4 separate regions of the Homo sapiens genome follow, and regions 2, 3 and 4 are each reported to be linked to region 1. Evidence: microRNA targets listed by miRTarBase, many of them from high-throughput screens and not tested one by one. Region 1 holds a microRNA gene; each other region holds the end of a gene's coding sequence.

Evidence for each region. Region 1 holds the annotated microRNA hsa-miR-3662 (GAAAAUGAUGAGUAGUGACUGAUG, at 2,164-2,187, shown strand). A microRNA usually pairs through its seed, bases 2 to 8, with sites in the 3' UTR of a target mRNA and lowers its output. Matches are read on the target gene's strand: a 7mer-m8 pairs with bases 2 to 8, a 7mer-A1 pairs with bases 2 to 7 and ends in A, and an 8mer does both.
Region 2: the mRNA of EPB41L4B is a reported target of hsa-miR-3662. Seed matches in the 3' UTR shown: 7mer-m8 at 2,302-2,308.
Region 3: the mRNA of EIF3M is a reported target of hsa-miR-3662. Seed matches in the 3' UTR shown: 8mer at 824-831, 7mer-m8 at 957-963, 8mer at 1,476-1,483 and 7mer-m8 at 2,905-2,911.
Region 4: the mRNA of CPA4 is a reported target of hsa-miR-3662. Seed matches in the 3' UTR shown: 7mer-m8 at 788-794.

Annotation. Positions count from the first base shown.
Region 1 is chr6:134,978,375-134,981,541 of GRCh38, reverse strand. It overlaps MIR3662 (microRNA 3662), which reads left to right and starts at 2,110; the gene lies at 2,110-2,204. It overlaps HBS1L (HBS1 like translational GTPase), which reads left to right. Exons shown (of 18, transcript NM_006620.4): 14 at 2,274-2,364; 15 at 2,755-2,863.
Region 2 is chr9:109,171,847-109,175,013 of GRCh38, forward strand. It overlaps EPB41L4B (erythrocyte membrane protein band 4.1 like 4B), which reads right to left. Exons shown (of 26, transcript NM_019114.5): 26 at 128-2,777. The coding sequence ends at 2,708. Among named protein-coding and RNA genes, the nearest start is that of FRRS1L, 6.2 kb to the left of the region's middle.
Region 3 is chr11:32,601,916-32,605,082 of GRCh38, forward strand. It overlaps EIF3M (eukaryotic translation initiation factor 3 subunit M), which reads left to right. Exons shown (of 11, transcript NM_006360.6): 11 at 364-3,167. The coding sequence ends at 484. It overlaps CCDC73 (coiled-coil domain containing 73), which reads right to left. Exons shown (of 18, transcript NM_001008391.4): 18 at 806-1,105. The coding sequence ends at 896. Among named protein-coding and RNA genes, the nearest start is that of EIF3M, 20 kb to the left of the region's middle.
Region 4 is chr7:130,322,204-130,325,357 of GRCh38, forward strand. It overlaps CPA4 (carboxypeptidase A4), which reads left to right. Exons shown (of 11, transcript NM_016352.4): 11 at 286-1,977. The coding sequence ends at 473. The region is part of intron 1 of LOC105375503 (a long non-coding RNA gene); the gene reads right to left. Among named protein-coding and RNA genes, the nearest start is that of CPA5, 21 kb to the right of the region's middle.

The sequences.
Region 1 (3,167 bases):
GAATGTATATTTTTCTTGAATTCATATGCTCTCTTTAAAAGAAGATTTCTTGAAAAGTTTAAGAAATTAATATCTATTGAAGTTACATGGTTTAACCTATATTTAAAGATGAATAAGGGAATGAAAATCAGTTATTTCCATTTGACCTTTTTATTTGTGCCCACTAGAGATCATGAAATTTCAGTTTTGATAAAAAGTAATATGCACTTTAAAAATAGTGTCATTTTCTATAGATCTGTTCATTGTGTGCAAGTACAGGTCTCTGCTTTTGTTTTTTAAAGTGACAAGAGCTATAATACTTTTGAAACACGATTTTTTTGGTATGTTAATGATCTTTTTTGAGAACAAGAATTTTTTTATGATTAAGAGCCATAAATTAAAACCATGATCCTAAAGTTATCACAGACCTTGAGGTTGGCTCCCTTGTAACCTCTAAAATCCTTAGTCATCTCTGAAAGTCTCACATTCTTTACCCTCCTCTTCTCTGTACTTTCCACACAGAGAAACTCTAAAGTATTATCTTTTATCAGTGTAAGTCTTATCAGAAGCCCCAGGGAAGAACCACCCTACTTCTTGAGAGCCAGTCTTTTAACTCAACAGAGAGGTTCTCCTTCCTCCATTCTAACCTTACTGCTTTTGCTTGGTTTACTTGATTCTTGAAAGCACTGTTCTGTCTAAACATTTTTAGGTACTACTGTGGCTCTTTAACCAGTACTGTCCCAAAAGAAAGACTTGACTGAATCTACTACCAACAAATAGAAATTCTAAATTACTTTTTTTTTTTTACTTTATTAACATATCAAGCTCATAGAGTATTAAAAAAGAGCCTCTTTTTGTAATGTTTGTCCAATGAGAAAAGTTTTTTGATAAATGTCATATGTGGAACAGTGTAACATGATTGAGGGGAAGAAGAACCAGAGAATATAATTACCTTTGGAAAATTTTATACTGTTAATTGAACTTGTAGTATAAAACATCTACAAATGTTTAAGCCAAAGTCAATCTCTATTGTGTGTAAATACCTAGCTTCTGTTTTTAATCCCATATTTCATAGCAAAATTCAGATATGTTCATTCTAAATTTACATTTTAAAATTAAATCTAGTAAGTTGATATTTAACAAACATTCCTTAATACGATAATTGCTAACATGTTTGGGAGGAAGAATCTCTGATACCTGAAGAAAGTTATGCCTTCTTTTCTCAGATTAATGCAGATGTGCACATACATGATATTTTGCATGAAACTCTAGATTGTCTCAGAGCTCTTAAAGTTAAATCCTTGAGCTCCCTAAAAGTCAGAAACTCTCCCTGCTGCATAGAAAATGAGTATTTTCAGAAAGATATGGGTGGATTATAATTTACTAAGAACATGTCAATGTGTCAATCAAGAACTATCCACAGTGGTTGGCCTACACATTCTCTTTGTCAAAAGGCCTACATTTCTATGGAAAGGAACTTAATCCATAAATGTATTCCATAAAATCAGAAAATATGGGATATATTTTAAAAGCCTTTGAGTAAGGTAGCTGAGTATTGCCCTTGGGAACTGCTCTCTCCGACTACCTTCAGGACTATGTCTAGGTAAATAGATGTATATCTCTAGATATATAGCAACACCTAGGATCATTTTAAAATTAAATTTTCTTATCACTATTTCCTTAATATTTTTCTTTTCATATAACTAGTCATTAGTATGCAGATCTCTCTCTGGAAAGAAGTTCTTTTGAGCCAGGAGTAGTTAAGGGGCCTGCTGAGAGGACCGCTTGAAATTCTGACTGAGTGTACATGTCCCATGGGTTACTTGGAAAACAAGGATTATTTGTTTAGGTGGTTGTCTAATTAAAAGCAAAACTCGAGAAGAAAATACTGCTAGACATCTTCTCCAGCCCATCTTTTATGTCATTATGAATAATTTGAACTGTGTTTTATTTTGTCTGTATCCATTAATATGATAGAAATATTTGAATGGGGCCTGTTTAATGAATATACCAATTGTGTCAATTAGTTTAAAAATCTTGATTAAATAAGCAGAAGTCAGCCTTTTATGGGCAAATACAAGTCACTTTATGTTTAGGGTGGTATTCTAGAAGAGTCAGTTCTAGAGGAAGTGTGTTTTCCTCAACGCTCACAGTTACACTTCTTACTCTCAATCCATTCATATTGAAAATGATGAGTAGTGACTGATGAAGCACAAATCAGCCAAACTCTGTTGGTTGTTATGGTTTGATATCGAGGTGTTTCACTGTATGCTTTGGTTCTTACTCATTTCCAGGAATCACTCTGCATGATGAACCTGTCGACTGGGCGGCAGCAGGCGATCATGTTAGTCTTACTTTGGTTGGGATGGATATCATCAAAATCAAGTGAGTGAGAAAATGAGTTTAAGCAACCGTTGTCTTCATATAGGACCTCACCTCTAAACACATATATTTTGCAACCTGCTAGTTCAATTTTGAATTTCATTTGACCAAAAATAGACACCTGTGTAAATGTAAGCAAACTTACTTAAAATTTGAATTAATACATGTCAGCACACATACTTGGCATGTGCTTTGAGTGAAAGCTCTAATGTATAAAAATGACATAAGGTTAATAATGGTTTAAAGTCATGCTTTAGCTCAGAAGAGAATATTTAGAAAAAGTCCCTAATTTACTTAATTGTTTTACTTTCCTTGTAAATGTTTTTGAGGTCTTTCTATTTGATGTAAATTTGTCCCCCAATTACCTTTCCTCTTTTTTTGTTGTTCTTACAGTGTTGGCTGCATATTTTGTGGCCCCAAAGTACCCATTAAAGCTTGCACTCGTTTCAGAGCCCGAATCCTCATCTTTAATATTGAAATTCCTATCACTAAAGGATTTCCTGTAAGTTCCAAAATGTTTTATTATTCCTGTTTTTATAAATTCAAAGTAACTTTATCCTAAAAGTGGTAACTTTCTTTACAAGTGGTGATACTATATTTATTTTGAATTAACATCTTATTACTGTAATCCAGAAAAACTTATAATTAGAAAATCGTTTTTATTTTGTTTTTTATTTTGATCTTTGAGCCTGAGGACTTTTTAAAAGGCATTGAGAAGATATTTAATAATAAATAGGATACAAAGTAATGATAATAAAATTTATCCAGGGAAAAATGATAGACACATTTTCACTGTGTTCTAAAGT
Region 2 (3,167 bases), not on the chromosome of region 1:
AAAATGTGAAACAATTGCGCCAATTCATTTTCATCCCTATGAATCCATCCAGCACAATTTCATCTTCTCAGTCACAATGCCAAGCACCCATCATTCACTTAAATAGGCAAATAACCAGGACAACTGCTGAAACCATGGAATCCTCTTATTTTACTGGTTAGAGGTGAGCTGCCAAAGGTACTGGGTTTCAAATACAGTAACAGCCAACTTGTTTGTGGTCAGACTTCCAGTGACGTCAACCTTCAGAAACTTCAACATCTGTGAACTCTGGGGGAAGCGGGGAAGAAGCAGGAAGCCCAGAGCCTCCTGGAAACACTGGCCAAAAAGCCCATGCATCCCTTCTTGGAAGCCAAGCAGATCTGACACATAGGAAATACTGGCTTTCCTGGCTTCCCCAAGAAACCTTCAGCTTTGCCCTGGAGGTTTCCATCAGCGAGCAGGAGGTGAAGAGCAGAAGCCTCAGAAAGCAGGTTAGAAGAGGAAGAGGGTGCTGGGTTGGCAAGAAGTGACAGCCCCATATTGTACGGGAACATATTTTGTATCATGTGCACAAGATAAAGAACAGCTAAAGCTGTTTTAAAAGTATAGCCGGGGGACATAGGGGTAAAAGGACCCAAACGCTACAATTGCCCCGGATAGCTCCACTGACAGAGCAGAGAGCAGTAAAAAACCATCAGTGAGAACAGCATAATATCCTATAAAAGGCCAAGCCAAGCCCTACACATATTGATAGCTCTTAATGATATCACTGCACCGTACCAAGGTATAAAAGGGGCTGATGTTTATAATCATGACCATGACTCATCAAGAAAAGGTTAAATACTCTCCAGTATACTCTGTTTACTAAGGCAGGGAAGTGCGTAATACATTTTAGAAAGATTTCCCTCAAAAAAAAATATATTAAAATTTTAAAGATTCAGCACTTAAAGGGTTAATCCTCGGTTATCTGAATATTCACATACATTCCTCATTTTACAACAATACTAGTAAATGAGGCATTACCTTTTTTTGTAGTCATTAGTATCAAATTATTGGCACCATTCAGTTTTAAGGAGAGGGGCAGGAGAGCAAACTATACAATATAACATAAAAATACAGTTCTGATACAAATATATGAGATCAGTTCCTCTTAACAAGTGGTCATAAGAAATGAATGAACATTTTACACACAAGGAAATACAACTAGTAAATCATCACATGGAAAAGTGCTCAGCCTTGCTAGCAATTAATGAAATAAAACAACTCTTCAAGAACAACTATACATACCTATTAAACTAGCAAAAATAAATAAAAATGGCAAAACCCAATACTGGCAGAGCTATTGGTAAACAGAAATGCTTATACATTGCTGGTGGCATCATAAATTGTCGAGGGGATTCAAGCATTCAGAGGGGGTGGGGAGGCTAAACTAGATGACCTTTAAGGTCCTTCCAACCCAAAGATTGGATCTTTCTAGAAAGCAATCTGGCAATATAAAACAAGAGCTATAAAATACTTCATGCTCTTTGACCTTGTAATCCCTCTTTGGAGATATTCCTAAGGGAATAATCCAAAAGAAGGAGCAGTTTTTTTTTTTTACAGACATTCATAGCAGCACTATTTATAAGAGTGAAAAATTAGATATAACTCAAATATCTAATAATGGGGTGAAGTGAGGTTACCCATGTTACATGGATATAAAGACATTTAAATTGGTGAGAGTAGAATCTGTGTTGACAAGAGGAGACAAGTGTTAGGCCGAGAAGTAAAACAAAGGAGAATGTACACAACGATCATAGCTATGTAAAAATATGTGTGTATTCATTGAGAAAGCTAGGGAACTAATTTAGAGGGATATTTTGTGGTTAGGGGGTTGCTTTATTCCTGCAAAGTTGTTCAAGTGCATTAATAAAAATTTAAAAACACATTTCTTGAAACTATATAAAAAGAGCAAAATTTCTTCTGGTCAAGATTCTATCAATACGACATGAATCGATCAACTTTAGAAATAATTTTCTGAATCTTCTTGATATTGAATCATCTTAACCTTGTAAGGATTTTTAGACAATGTAAGCTATCATTTCCTACTTTGGGTTCAATGATAAATTCTGTTTATTCCAAATAATATCATATCCAAGGAGTTCACAAGTTAAATTATATTTCAGATTAAGCTGAAGTACCTTCAGTCATAGTGATATGTAACTTTCTTTTTTTAGTTCTTCTACTCACATCTGAATACAAATGAATGTTAAAGACTTTATAAGATCTGTGTATTTATCAGTGTAAATGAAAAACCAGCAATAAAGAATTATTCTTTCATTAAAAATGACTCTTTAACAAACAGTCAAAGCTCGGTGCAAGTTTCAATCATACAAAATCAAATGGTTGAAATTGATAGTAAAAGATCCTACATCATATTAACCCCTGTGGTTATTAACAGATACACACAGGTACTTCTGAAAAGGAATCCCGTTTTCCCATCTTTCTTTTCCTAGACTTATCAAATCCTGTCTCAACTACATAGAGTAATAGAAAAACTCTAATGCTTAGGAGACATAAAATAACTTTTCCCATAAAAGTCAAGCCAGAAATTGGCTTCAACTAACCATGGAGACCTGGGCGAACAGAGCACACACTTGTATGCTGTGCTAGAGTGAGCACACAAAGCCCGAAGAAAGAAGACGGACAGAAGGCACCATGCCATCTTCCAGGTGACAAGGGGAGAATTTCACAGTTCGGTCATCAACAGTCTTTTCATCATCTTCTCTCTCTCCAGTTCCTGCCGGAGTGTCTCTGCACTAAAAAAAAGTATGTGACAAAATAGTGAGACAATCCCTCAAAAATTGCAGAAGCAGACAGCTTAAGTATCATCTCCCAGGTTCTTTCCTGATCTCAGTGTTGGACTTTCTTTTTTAGACTCCTTGAGGACTATCTACATTTGCTAGCATTTCAGTGATCTGAAATTGGCTACTTACTGGTTTCTCAGTCCCACCATGCTGAGAGTTCCTGGCTGACTATATGTCATTCATCTCTAAACCTCCAGAGCCTTGCGCAGTATCTGGTGCATGGCAGCCACTCAGTAAAGTGTTTTTTTTTTTTTTTTTTTTTTGAGATGGAGTCTCACTCTGTCACCCAGGCTGGAGTACAGTGGCGTGATCTTGGCTCACTGCAACCTCCACCTCCCAGGT
Region 3 (3,167 bases), not on the chromosome of region 1:
CACTTGACTGTAGTTAAATAGTTGCTATTTATCATAATTTTATTAAAGTTCAGACTGAATGTGATTAGCTTATTTAATGAAAGAGTCCTATTTTCCAGCACATTTCATTTAATGGCTGAGCATTGGCTAGAATACTAATGACTTTTATGTCTGCTTTATATAGTTGCTCAGGAGAATTAGAAGGCTTAGGATCAATATGGTAAAGATTTTTTTTAAATAATTATGTAATTCTTAAATTCTCTTACTATTCTAAATTAGGTATATTTAATCTTGCTTTTAACTGGATTCAAATCTGTAGTATTATAAAAGAATACCAGAGGCTAAAAGGTTGACTAACACTGTGTTTAATTTTTCAATTTTTAGTCATAGCACACATCGGACATTTGGAAAACAGCAGTGGCAACAACTGTATGACACACTTAATGCCTGGAAACAAAATCTGAACAAAGTGAAAAACAGCCTTTTGAGTCTTTCTGATACCTGAGTTTTTATGCTTATAATTTTTGTTCTTTGAAAAAAAAGCCCTAAATCATAGTAAAACATTATAAACTAAAAAAATTTGCCTAGTCTGGACAGTTATTGTCTCAAATTTATACTAAAATCACAAACTCCAGAGGATATGAAGTAATAAATTACAAGGGGTCACAATGTCTGTCATACAATACATAAATTCTGTTCTTTAAAAAAGGATATTGAAGAAGCAATGAGCACTTTAAAGAAAGGATAATATACAGAGAGAAGACAGAAGTAGAGTAATACAATTTCTTCACATTAGAAAAACTTGGAAAAGCAAAGACAAACTGTAGAGCTTTAAATACAACAGTCATTTTATTCTAGTAAAAACTATACCAGAATTTCAGTTACATAATTTCACTACTGAAAGCACTTATCTACATTATTTTAATCTGTTGTTTTTTTCCAACGTCTCTTCTGCTTTTCTTTTCTTTGGCTGGTTGTCATTTTCTAAACTTAGTAAATTTTCACTTTTATTTAGTTGATTCGTAATGAGGCTCTGCCAGTCATCATCACCAGAAGTATTTTTAGTCGTCTTGATTGCCTGCAAATGGCTTTGTAGTGGAGTTGATATCAGAGGCTTTGTTTTCACCTGGGAAAGATAAACTAATTTTACCTTCGAAATTATTATACAAAAGATTTTAAAGAGTCTGTAAAGCCTCTGCAGTTATGAGTATGTGGTAAAACCACCATCTCTTGGCTGATTTCCACTACCTTAGTAGTTCTGGCACCAGAAAAGTATACAATGTGAATGTGTAGGCTTATGTAGTAGATCTTCAAAATCTCTAATATATAACTGAAGTAAAGTGTACAAAAACTGCCTTTTACTACTTCATGTTTCCTCCCATGCTTCAGAACACCATTGTTGAAGAAACAGGAAGGGCAGTGAGATATTTGGAAGTTGGCATGTTTTCAAGACACTGTATTGGGTAATTTTAAAAATAGTGTGTTAAATAACTTTTTCATTTTAAGGTTCTTTTCTGATGTTAAAATACTTACTGGAAATTTAGAAAATAGAGTAAAGTAGAAAGAAACTAAAAATCATTAGTAATCCCTTATCCAGAGAGGCTTGTTGACATTTTGGTATTATTTGCTGCTAGCGTTTTTTTCTATTTTTAGCCTATTTGATCATTCTATAGAATTTTATGTATTTTCCTCTGTGAGCAGTTTCTTAGGTCATTAAAAACAATTGTCTATGGCTGCAAAATACTCCCTTTTATGGATGTTTGATATATCTCCTACTACTGAATGTTTGTTTCCAGTTTATCCCTACCAAAAATTAATTCGAGTTAATTTCATGCAAAACAATCTTTGATGTTTTTGAGAGATTCCCAGATAAAATTTTCTCTTCAAAAGGAATACTGGGCCAGGCACTGTGACTCATACCTGTAATCCCAGCACTTTGGGAAACTGAGGCGAGTGGATTGCATGAGCTCAGGAGTCGAAAACTAGCCTGAGCAACATGGCAAAACCCCATCTCTACCAAAAATTAGCTGGGCATGGTGGCATGCAACTGTAGTCCCAGCTCCTCGGAGGGCTGAGGTGCAAGGATCATTTGAGCCCAGGAGGTGAAGGTTGCAATGAGCCAAGATCATGCCATTGCACTCCAGCCTGGACAACAGAGTGAGACCCTCTCTCAAAAATAAATAATAGATAAAACAAAAGGAATACTGAATTGTTTTCAAAATAACAATTATGGTGGGCTTTCTTTTAAGATAGGGTCTCACCCTGTCACCTAGGCTGGAGTGCAGTGGCACAATCACAGCTCATTGCAGCCTTGACCTCCCTGGATTCAGGTGATCCTCCCACCTTCACCTCCTGAGTACCTTGGACTACAGGCATGTGCCACCACACCCAGGTAATTTTTGTATTTTTTGCCATGTTGCCCAGGCTGGTCTCTCTTAACTCTTGGGCTCAAGTGATCTGACCATCTCGGTCTCCCAAAGTTCTAGGATTACAGGAGTGAGCCATACTGTGTTGTGTTTTAGTTGAAAGGGATATACACGTGTATTTTAGAAATATGAAACAGGATAAGAATTACATTAAAATCACCCAAGATCCCAACCACCATTAAAGAGTTTGTGTAAATCTTCTGGTCTCTTTTCTGTATACACTTTTTAAATACTGGGGTCATATTTTTATTGGTTTATATGCTATGTTAAACATTTTTAGCATTTCCTCCTGTTCTTAAGTCTGTTAAGAGGATAGCTCCATCATATTCTGTGTTCTGCAAATTATTTCTGGACATTTAAATTGTAAGAAAATGGTCACTGTTAACTAGGCTGCAGTGATTATCATTTGTTCATAAATCTTTGTGAAGATCTTTGGGTACTGCCTTACATTAAAATCTTTTTCAATTTGACCAGTAAAAGTGGCATGTTAGTAACATTGTCATTTTCAGTGTTAGATTATGTAGTACTAAGTTTATTTTATTTTATTTTTGAGACAGAGTCTTGCACTGTCGCCCAGGCTGGAGTGCAGTGGCGCCATCTCAGCTCACTGCAACCTCCACCTCCCAGGTTCAAGCGATTCTTCTGCCTCAGCCTCCCGAGTAGCTGGGATTACAGGCACCCACCACGATGCCCAGCTAATTTTTTGTATTTTTAGTAGAGACAGGGTTTCACTATGTTGTCCAGGCTGGTCTCGAACGCCTG
Region 4 (3,154 bases), not on the chromosome of region 1:
CTATAGAGATTGGTTTTGAGGGACTTACAGGACGGACACAGCGTTAGTAATAAGGTGGGAGTAGGGGTTTCAGATCTCTTGATTTGAGACCAGTGTGCACCTCAGGCCAATGCAGGATGTCCTGAGACATAGGGATCAGGCTGATGATTTTGTCATAGGACTGATGACTTGAGGAGCAAACTCTGGATTCCTTAAGGAACCCCAGGCAGGCAGAGCTCTTGGCCCCTTCCCATCTAACCCAGGAGGGAACTGGGCTTCAAGAGTGTTTTGTCCTCCGACTTACAGATCCAGCTAGCGGGAGCAGCATCGACTGGGCATATGACAACGGCATCAAATTTGCATTCACATTTGAGTTGAGAGATACCGGGACCTATGGCTTCCTCCTGCCAGCTAACCAGATCATCCCCACTGCAGAGGAGACGTGGCTGGGGCTGAAGACCATCATGGAGCATGTGCGGGACAACCTCTACTAGGCGATGGCTCTGCTCTGTCTACATTTATTTGTACCCACACGTGCACGCACTGAGGCCATTGTTAAAGGAGCTCTTTCCTACCTGTGTGAGTCAGAGCCCTCTGGGTTTGTGGAGCACACAGGCCTGCCCCTCTCCAGCCAGCTCCCTGGAGTCGTGTGTCCTGGCAGTGTCCCTGCAAGAACTGGTTCTGCCAGCCTGCTCAATTTTGGTCCTGCTGTTTTTGATGAGCCTTTTGTCTGTTTCTCCTTCCACCCTGCTGGCTGGGCGGCTGCACTCAGCATCACCCCTTCCTGGGTGGCATGTCTCTCTCTACCTCATTTTTAGAACCAAAGAACATCTGAGATGATTCTCTACCCTCATCCACATCTAGCCAAGCCAGTGACCTTGCTCTGGTGGCACTGTGGGAGACACCACTTGTCTTTAGGTGGGTCTCAAAGATGATGTAGAATTTCCTTTAATTTCTCGCAGTCTTCCTGGAAAATATTTTCCTTTGAGCAGCAAATCTTGTAGGGATATCAGTGAAGGTCTCTCCCTCCCTCCTCTCCTGTTTTTTTTTTTTTGAGACAGAGTTTTGCTCTTGTTGCCCAGGCTGGAGTGTGATGGCTCGATCTTGGCTCACCACAACCTCTGCCTCCTGGGTTCAAGCAATTCTCCTGCCTCAGCCTCTTGAGTAGCTTGGTTTATAGGCGCATGCCACCATGCCTGGCTAATTTTGTGTTTTTAGTAGAGACAGGGTTTCTCCATGTTGGTCAGGCTGGTCTCAAACTCCCAACCTCAGGTGATCTGCCCTCCTTGGCCTCCCAGAGTGCTGGGATTACAGGTGTGAGCCACTGTGCCGGGCCCGTCCCCTCCTTTTTTAGGCCTGAATACAAAGTAGAAGATCACTTTCCTTCACTGTGCTGAGAATTTCTAGATACTACAGTTCTTACTCCTCTCTTCCCTTTGTTATTCAGTGTGACCAGGATGGCGGGAGGGGATCTGTGTCACTGTAGGTACTGTGCCCAGGAAGGCTGGGTGAAGTGACCATCTAAATTGCAGGATGGTGAAATTATCCCCATCTGTCCTAATGGGCTTACCTCCTCTTTGCCTTTTGAACTCACTTCAAAGATCTAGGCCTCATCTTACAGGTCCTAAATCACTCATCTGGCCTGGATAATCTCACTGCCCTGGCACATTCCCATTTGTGCTGTGGTGTATCCTGTGTTTCCTTGTCCTGGTTTGTGTGTGTGTGTGTGTGTGTGTGTGTGTGTGTGTGTGTGTTTGTGTGTGTGTGTCTGTCTATTTTGTATCCTGGACCACAAGTTCCTAAGTAGAGCAAGAATTCATCAACCAGCTGCCTCTTGTTTCATTTCACCTCAGCACGTACCATCTGTCCTTTTGTTGTTGTTTTGTTTTTGTTTTTTTGCTTTTACCAAACATGTCTGTAAATCTTAACCTCCTGCCTAGGATTTGTACAGCATCTGGTGTGTGCTTATAAGCCAATAAATATTCAATGTGAGTTTCATGATCATCTCCTATTCTTTGCCTTCACCTGAATGGAACCAAGCTATAGTTTTGAATATGCAACTCTTTATAATGTCAGAAGTCGACTTTAATCCCTGTCTGTATCGCATGACATGTAAGAAGTCCTCCTTCATCAGGCCAAGGGGCCTCCAGGGCAATGTTACCTTGGTGATTTCACTCTGGTCCTGGGTCTAATTCTTAGCTTTTCAGCTCAAAAGCTTGATAGTCTCAGTGTCCATGTTGATTAAACTAGGGGATGCTGACTCACGCCTACAGACCTCAGATGAGGCAGATGATAAAATCAGAATGCGAATTTATTAATTTACATCGTGGCATGTAACCGGTGAGTGGATTGGATCCTCACGTCGGCCTGAGCAGTACATTCTCTCCCTGTAGGCAAGATACATGGGAAGCCAAATTATAATCAGAAGGTTGCTTAGTGAGCGGGCGTCAGAGCAAGGAAAGTTAATTAAAGTCTATGATTAGACTTTTTAATAGCACCCAGCTCTAATAGCATGATATATCCAGTTCTATAGCCAGAGCACACCTGCCAGTCAGCCAGCTGGCCGCTTGTGCTGGCTGGTCAGGACTGCCTCAGACAGTTATGCTGTGCCTCGGTAAGCATAAACAAGCTTGCCTCTGTGACTGGCCTCTGACCTGGGCCTAATTGTGATCACTCCCCTCAGACTCAGATTATCCTTCAGATTCCTTAAGGGAAAGATTTATTTTAAAATTTTATTATTATTTCTTTCTATAGAGAGATGGGGCCTTGCTATGTTGCCCAGGCTGGTCTTGAACTCCTGGCCTCAAGCAATCCTCCAACCTTGGCCTCCCAAAGTGCTGGGATTACAGATGTGAGCCACCACACCCGGCCAAGGGAAAGACTGCTTAAACGAGACATAAATGCCAGATACTATAATGAAATTAGAGCTTTTGTTCATTAAAAGATATAGAAACGGAGAAAACAAGTTAAAGGCCAGGAGAGGATGTTCACCATATTTCTAATACAAACAACAGACAAAGAATGTATGAAGAACTTCAACAAATCAATAAAGAAAGCACAGATAACCCAATAGAAAAATGCACCAAAGGTATAACGAAGCATTTCACATAAGAGGAAGCACAGGCCGTGCATGGTGGCACATCCCTATAATCCCAACACTCTGGGAGGCCGAGGT